Homo sapiens: one gene and its partner. The protein of the gene in region 2 purifies or fractionates together with the protein of the main gene of each other region. This does not show direct contact. Each region holds a gene or a part of one and is shown on either strand. Other genes may lie near its edges.

The links. Proteins that work in one complex are often made in the same cells at the same time.
Region 1: the proteins of PENK (region 2) and ANAPC1 purify together in Homo sapiens (affinity purification with mass spectrometry; 3 studies listed by BioGRID and IntAct, with this or other methods). This does not show direct contact.

What each region holds. Positions count from the first base shown.
Region 1 is NC_000002.12:111,769,194-111,772,693, forward strand, and holds part of ANAPC1 (anaphase-promoting complex subunit 1), read right to left. Parts: intron 3,283-3,500; coding exon 3,148-3,282; intron 1,942-3,147; exon of another isoform or gene 1,868-1,941; intron 214-1,867; coding exon 98-213; 3' UTR 1-97. UniProt on the Homo sapiens protein: Component of the anaphase promoting complex/cyclosome (APC/C), a cell cycle-regulated E3 ubiquitin ligase that controls progression through mitosis and the G1 phase of the cell cycle.
Region 2 is NC_000008.11:56,443,842-56,447,939, forward strand, and holds the start of PENK (proenkephalin-A preproprotein), read right to left. Parts: upstream 2,801-4,098; 5' UTR 2,728-2,800; intron 2,660-2,727; exon of another isoform or gene 2,641-2,659; 5' UTR 2,585-2,640; exon of another isoform or gene 2,116-2,584; 5' UTR 2,113-2,115; coding exon 1,975-2,112; exon of another isoform or gene 1,966-1,974; intron 1-1,965.

The sequences.
Region 1 (3,500 bases), on a different chromosome or scaffold from region 2:
TACCATAAAACTTTATAAACATTGCTTTAGCTTTGATGTTTGGTCACGTTTGTTGTGCAGAAGTCACGTTTCAGGGTAGGTTCACCGCCAGACACGGTCACATCACCATTGGCTGTGGATTTCCAAGAAGCAAAGGAGCCAATCTCAGCAAAGCTCGCACTGGCATTTTTAGCTGCTTAAATTTGAAGAGCAGTTCAGCAAAGCTTGTGCTCCCTAAAATGGAAATGGGGTGGGAAGGTCACATCTCTAAATAAATTCAGCCATACCTCTCCTTTCAAGGAAGCTTCAGAAACACAATCATGTTTAAAACAGGCATTTTTCCCTTTGAAAATGACTATGCAAAGACAATATTTAAAATTATGAAATTCCTTAATACACTGTAATGTAAATTGAGTATCCCTTTTCCAAAATGCTTCTGAAGAGAGGTGTTTTGGATTCTGGATTTTTTTAGATTTTGGAATATCTGCATTACACCTACTGGCTTTCTTTTTTTTTTTTTTTTTTTGGAGACGAAGTCTCACTTTGCCACCGGGGCTGGAGTGCAGTGGCGCTCTCTCGGCTCACTGCAAACTCCACCTCCTGGGTTCACCCATTCTCCTGCCTCAGCCCCCCGAGTAGCTGGGACTACAGGTGCCCACCACCACGCCCAGCTAATTTTTTTTGTATTTTTAGTAGAGATGGGGTTTCAACGTGTTAGCCAGGATGGTCTCGATCTCCTGACCTCGTGATCCGCCCGCCTCGGCCTCCCAAAGTGCTGGGATTACAGGCGTGAGCCACTGCGCCCAGCCTCGGCTGAGCATTCTTAATCCAAAAATCCCAAATCCAAAATGCTGTAATGAACATTTCCTCTGAGCATCATGTTGGTGCTCAAAACGTTTTCGATTTCAAACACTTCAGATTTCAGATTAAGGATACTCAAACCTGTATATGATTTGATAGAATTTACCCATTCTAGACTTCAGAAAGTGACCTATAACTACATGTGAAACTACTAATATTGTTTAATTTTATATATATATATATATATATATATATAAATTCTTTAAATATAATGTGCAAAAGTGCCTGTCTACCTTCAAATACTATCTAAGTGGTATTTTACTGGTTCTAATACAGTTGACCATTGAACAACCCTGTTTGTCCAGCCTGGCCTGAAAAGAAGTCTATACTTTTAAAATGTCTTCCTTTTCCTTTTAGTAGTTTGACTATTAATGTGACTAGGTATGGTTTTCTTTGTATTTATCCTGCTTAGGGTTCACTGTGGGTTAATATTTAACACAATTTTTCAAAATTCTTAGCTTCTGTCTCTTCAAATATTGCTTCTAACTCATTTTTTCTCTCCTCTTATTCTCTTATTCCAACCCCATGCATGTTTATTTTTTTTTCACGGTTTCCACATGTCTCTTGTACTCTTCTCTGTATTTCCTAACCATTCTTCCCTCTGTGCTTCAGTTTGTTTACTTTCTACTTGTCTTCCAGCAGATAAGTGTCTTCCAGTTCACTTCAAATAATCCAGTACTGAGATCTTCATTTCAGTTACTATATTTTTCAGTTCTAGAATTTCCATTTAACTCTTTTTTATTGACCCCAGGTTTCTGGTGAAATTCCCTATCATTCCTTCTATTTTCCTGGAAACATTAGACATAGTTATTTTAAGTTCCAGTATGATAACTCCAATATCTGAATCACACATAAGTCTGTTTCTATTATCTGTTTTTTTATTATTATTATGTTTCGTAATTTTTGATTCAACACTGAATCCTGTAGACTAAAAATTGCGGGGGCTCTGGGTATGTTTTCTTTCTCCTATGAAGGTTACATTTTCTTCTGTCAGGTGGGGAGAAAGCACACAGATCACCTTAGTTCTGCTCTAGGCTAATTGTAGGTCAAGTCTGCTTGGAGTGAAACTGAAGCAGACCAGATCTAAAATTAGGCTAGAGCAGGCTTAGGGCTTGGCCATGTATTAATTCACCTGAGGAGCTGGGATGCTGATCAGAGCCACTTCACTTTAACAAGCGTTGAATTCCACCCTTTGTCTCCTCAGTCCTATGCTGCTGCTGACATTTTTGCTTACATTTTTGGCCTTGTGGCTTCTGCTAGATCTCTTGAAGTCTTATCCCATGTATATGAAGGCTAAAATATCATTAAGTAACTCAAGGGAAAGGTATATCCAGAGTCTGAGTTATGATTTCTATTGTTCTCTCCTGCCTGAGACTGTGTTCCTCAAGTTCTAGGCTCTTGGGCAATCACAAACCCAACCTCTGGCTCCTCAGCCCTGCAGCATTGCTGCTTTTTGCTGGCACTCTACTTCTTGTACTATGAACTGGCAAATGCCTTTGGGGGAGAAGCTAGGGTGAATATAAAGCTCTCCCTGTTGTACTTCCCTTTTCTTATTTTTTTTTTTTAGCTTTTATATTTGTTTTTGAGGGCAAGTGAGTCCAATACAAGCAATTCCATCATGGCCATAACCAGAAGTCTCTAGATAGTAAACTTTTATCAGAGGCTTGCAAAACAGCAAAAAACTAGTAATGTAATTAAACTTCAAGTTTAAATGATTAAATGGAACAATCTTTGCCCTTATCAAAAAATATTTTTTTTGAGAATCTCAAAAAAATTGGGTGCTTAGAATTCATCATATCTTAGTATTCAGCTTAATGGATAAATTTTTTTTATCTGTTTCTATATTCTGAAAAATACAATCAGGTGATAATACTATTAATTTTTAAAACTATTATAAAAAAATTCAAACACAAAATTAGGTATTTATTAGTTGTAAAGCTTTGTAATATTAGAAATTAAGATTATATGTGATTCTAAAAAACCCAACTGAAAACCTAGAAAATAAAGAAAAATAGCTTTAATAAAAAAATCAATTAGTAAAGAATAATATGGAATATTTAGTTTATTAGTATAGATCAGTGTTTGGGGCTCTGTGAAGAAGAATCCATCCTTTTCTGAATAAAAATGAAAGTTATTCATATATAAAGTTGATAATTTTTTCTTTTTTGCTCCAAAACAGTCCCTAACAATGACACTGCAACATTAATGAAGAGGAAAGTCAAACTAGGGGCAGTAACTACTGAGAAACTAGAACATAAAGGGGTAGGTAACAGAGTTACTGAAGATAAGACTTAGATATGCAATTACCTTCTAGTCCTATAGGTGGCAGGTGCTGTGGAGCTGGCACAGAGTGGTAGACGAGGAAGCAGGCCAGCATGCTCAGCTGTGATTCCTCCAAGGGCTGCCCGCTGAGGTAGGCGTGCACACACATATCACCCCCGACTGTGAGAGAAACAAATGGAACGGAACCAACTGATGACAGAACTGAGAGGCACAAGAAATATCTTCTATTACTTTTTCATCAAGAACTTATTGAACGCTCAGCATATATAAAGCAGGTTCTATAGCCGGTATTGAGGCTACTCTGACAAGCTAGACTGAGTCCCTGTCATTGTAGAGTTTAGAGTGTTGTTGGGGGAGACAGATATTACACAAATAAT
Region 2 (4,098 bases):
CTATTTTTATTGATGGTTGCTTATTATCTATTTTTTTCAAGTTGCTAACACTACACGTGCCATTCCATCACCTGGATTAAAGTAATGATAATAGTAATAAGTGATAACAACAAGAGCATAAAAAGCAGTATGGAAAATTCTGGAAAGAGCAGCCTTCCTCTTCTCCTCCCCCACAATCCTGTTACATGATGAGAAGAGGGTGAGAGAGGGAGAGAAGTCAAGATTTGAGGTGATACCCAGGGAAGAGCTAGCTGCTACCCAGTGAGCTCTGCTCAAGTTCCTCAACAATGCAAAAGGAAGATTAGTAGCATTTTGGGAGCTTGGTGAATCAAATAGATTAAGTATGAAAAAAACCCATTTGAATAGGCATGATTAAAAGTCAGTCATATTAATTCGCTAACTCACATAATTTAAGTAAATATGATACTACTTTGGGGTCAGTCTGTGTGATTAGAAAAATTAGACTAGAATCCATATAACCTTTATTCAGATGGCAGAGAAAGCTAGGGGAGGGGGCTGAGCCCCTGACATGTTGAGCAGGCAAAGCTCAAAATATGTGTGACTGGGCACAGGGAATTATGGGGTCAGAAAGTGGAGTCTTCTATGTGGCATGTTTTGGATTTTTCTTCCTCCTTCTGTGTCTAAAATTCTTTATCCACAAGATCTATCCTTATATTTGTAGCACTGGCTCAATTTTTAGGCATAGGTTAAAAGCTCATGACTACAGGAGAAAGAAGAAAGATGGGTGAAGGGGATTGTTTCTCCTATTGAAGATGAAACATTTTTCTCATAGTTTAAATATACAACCTTCCTATGTGTCTTCTCTTTAATGCCAAGTTAGCACAGGTCAAAGAAACAAACATTTAACCTGAAATATATACCACAGATATTTGGAAACTGTTCCTTGGTTTTCTCCCCATTTCAAACATCTACATAAGGTAAAATTTCCTCAATTCCAGGTGGAACCCAAAGCAGCTTGGATGAATACATTATTCTCTATGAGCTTTTTAAGTCACCATAAAATTTCAACAAATTTCAAAAGCAATGCAAAGGAATTGTCAGGGGAGCTGGTAAAAGTGAAGCTACCTGAGTCTCGAGGTTGGAGATTCAGACTCAGTAGAGCACCAGAGGTGATTCGACAGCCCATGGGGAACCATGATCAGAATGAAAGTTATTTTGTCCTCAGCTTTTTCTTTCCCCAACCCCCTGTAGTGCAGTGTATCTTTGGACTGTTGTCACCCATTGGACACTGGCCACTTCTCTTGTTCCTTTCTCATAGCCAAATTAAACTGTTGTTTTAGTTACTATTACAAAGGGCAGTTGAAACAGAAGTTGAATTCCAGCATCACTGGCTAGTGAGACAGTTTGAACTCTTTCCTGTCTACGGTTATTTCGCCTTCCTCTCCCCGTACCCCTTTTCCATCCCTTTGCTCTCTCCTATTTACAGGTGAGGGTAGGGAATGAGGGACCTGAGGTTAAGAGAGCTGGGGAACATAAATCTAAAGAAAGGCACCGAAATGTCACTAACAAAAAATTACATTATTTGTGGGAAAGATGGGAAGATGACTGCGTGTGGAGGGGCCCTTAGCTGGGATATGTTAGGAGTTGTGGTGACAGCCATCTTCCTTCTGACAGCCCAGGAGAGAACCCAGTGCTATCCGAGGTGCTGAACAGAGGACTTCTCGGGGTTCCCGAATTCCCAGGGTTAAAACAAACTTGGTTTGTGCGGCGACACCGCTACCCTTACCGGTCCCCAGATAGTCGCGGATCCCCGAAGCTAAGAGCCAGGGCAGGACTTCAGTCAGTGTTCCAGGAACAGCTGAGACACCCAGGTCACCACGGGCTCGCGCCGCTGCGGCTCCGACCCGGTGCGAACCGCCATACGCGCCGCGCGGTGGGCCGGAGGCAGTCCGCGTACTGTTGCGGAAACTCTGTCTCACAAGGTGCGCAACACTCGCCGCGCGCAACACTCACCAGGAAGTTGATGTCGGCCGGGCGCACTAGGCGGTAGCTGCACGTCGCGCAATCCTGGCTGCATTCGGCCCGCACGGTCGCCAGGAGCCCGGGGCCGAGCAACAGCAGCCAAGTGCAAAGTGTCAGGAACCGCGCCATGGACTGCGAGGAGAGAGGGACGCGTGCTTCGAGCCTGCCTGGGCGCAGAACGGGGTCCCTCGGCAGGACCCTCGCCGCGACAGCCTCAGCAGGGGATCGTCGAGCAAAAGCCCGCAGGAATGCTCCTTTCTGGGGCCCCGCCCTCCCGGCCGACAGCTTTTAGGTAGACGTGGAGGCGACTCAGATCGCCTCGCGGTTCCCGGGATGGCGCGGTCGCCCCCAACGCGAGGCTGCCTGGGGCACCCGGCTCTTTTCCTGGGCGTCCGCGGCCCAGGGCAAGATTCCGGAGAGAACGCCGCAGACCAGGGGCGAGAGAGCGGGAGCCGGGGGAGGCAGGACATTGACTGGGGTCACAAAGAAGAACCAGGGAACGCTGTTGGGGAACCCATGCAATGAAATGTGAAGGGAAAGAGGGCGGGCAGACGTCCCCAAACCCGCTCAGCAAAGACAAGCTTCGGGCAAATTCACTCACGTTGACGCTGTTCGGATGGAGCAGGCCAATTGGAAAAGCCGGGTTCAGACACGACTCTAGAGGGAAGAGAAGAAGGCAAGTGTGAGGAGGGCGGGCGTCGGGGAGAAGCGGGCCCGGGTGTGCTGGCGGACGTAGGGCCTCACCGTCGCGGTCCTCAGCGTCTCTGCGGGGTCACGGGCCAGGCTGCGGGGCTCTGAGCGCCTGCCTCGCCGTCCCGGGGCTTAACGGCTGCTGGAGCCACTTTATAATTAGCCCCAAACCGAAGGAGGCGCGCGCGCCCCAATCGCCGGCGGGCTGCAGCTGACGCAGGCCCTACGCCAGCCCCGCGCCGACGCCTTCGCGGGAGGGGTCGGTCCCCCAGCACCCGCGCGCCGCTCCCCCCGCCGAGCTCGGGTGGGGGCCACAGGGGGCGCTCGGTGGCTCCCCACACGGCCAGGTGACAAACCCAAGGCAGTTAGGAAGTTTGGGGAGAGTGAGATAGGATCAAGTTTCTCCGCATAAAGTCACTGAAATTGCACCGTGGGATGCGGGCTCCAGGGAGGGAAGCGAGGTGGGGGCGTTTGGAAGGATAGATGGACTGGCTTAGACTTCTGGAATGTGCTGGAGACCCAGCGGGCCGGTGAACCTGCCCCTTTCCCGCCTCCTCCCTGGGCCCCCTCGCGGGTCCCCGTGGGCACCAAGCACAGCCGTCCGGAATGTCGTCATTTATTGACCAACCTGTCCCCCACACTTGACTCCGAGTTCCTTACTGCAGCATCTAACAGCGTCAAGGTGCGCAGTTTAGGCGCTCAATTAATGGTTACAGGAACTGAACGATTGAAAGTTTCTGGGAATCTTAAAATCTCAGGACAGAATTTTCACCTTTCCAGTTAGAGACCCTTGGCCAAGCGTAGAAGCAGGTAAACCCTCAGGTTCCGGGACTGCGCGCTTTTCAGCCACTGTGGGAGAGGATCCGTGTTTAACCAGCTCCCCGGGGCTCCCAAGTCGAAGACCTACTGCCTTGAGAGCGCTGTCCAGGGTGTCCGGGGGTGTTGGATCAGTGAGAGGGGGGTGCCGGGGCGGGTGTAATGTCAGCGCGCCAGGAGTGTGGTGGGGAGGGAGGGATGAGGGACACCCTACCCGGGACGCCGGGGCTTGGAACCTCTTCTCCACCGGGAGGGGGCCGAGGGCACACTGTGGAGGCTGGTACTGTCCATTAAGACACGCTTTCCCGCTTCCTGGCTCTGCAAAAGATTGCTAAGCGGCAAGCTGCTTACATTGCCTGAGGCCTCAGTTTCCCTATTTGAAAAATAGGAACAGAGGTAATATGCCATTCATAAGGTTCTGGAGAGAATCAAATGAAATAGTGGACGAAATCTCTTAGCCTTGTGCCTGGCACTATAGCAAGCCCTCAAAACATCTTCTAACCATCCGTCATCCGTCCGTCCACCTTTCCATCTGTGACCATTGTCTGCTTACCTTATAGCTACCATCGATGTATCCAATCCACCTATGCATCTATGTCTCCTAGACCT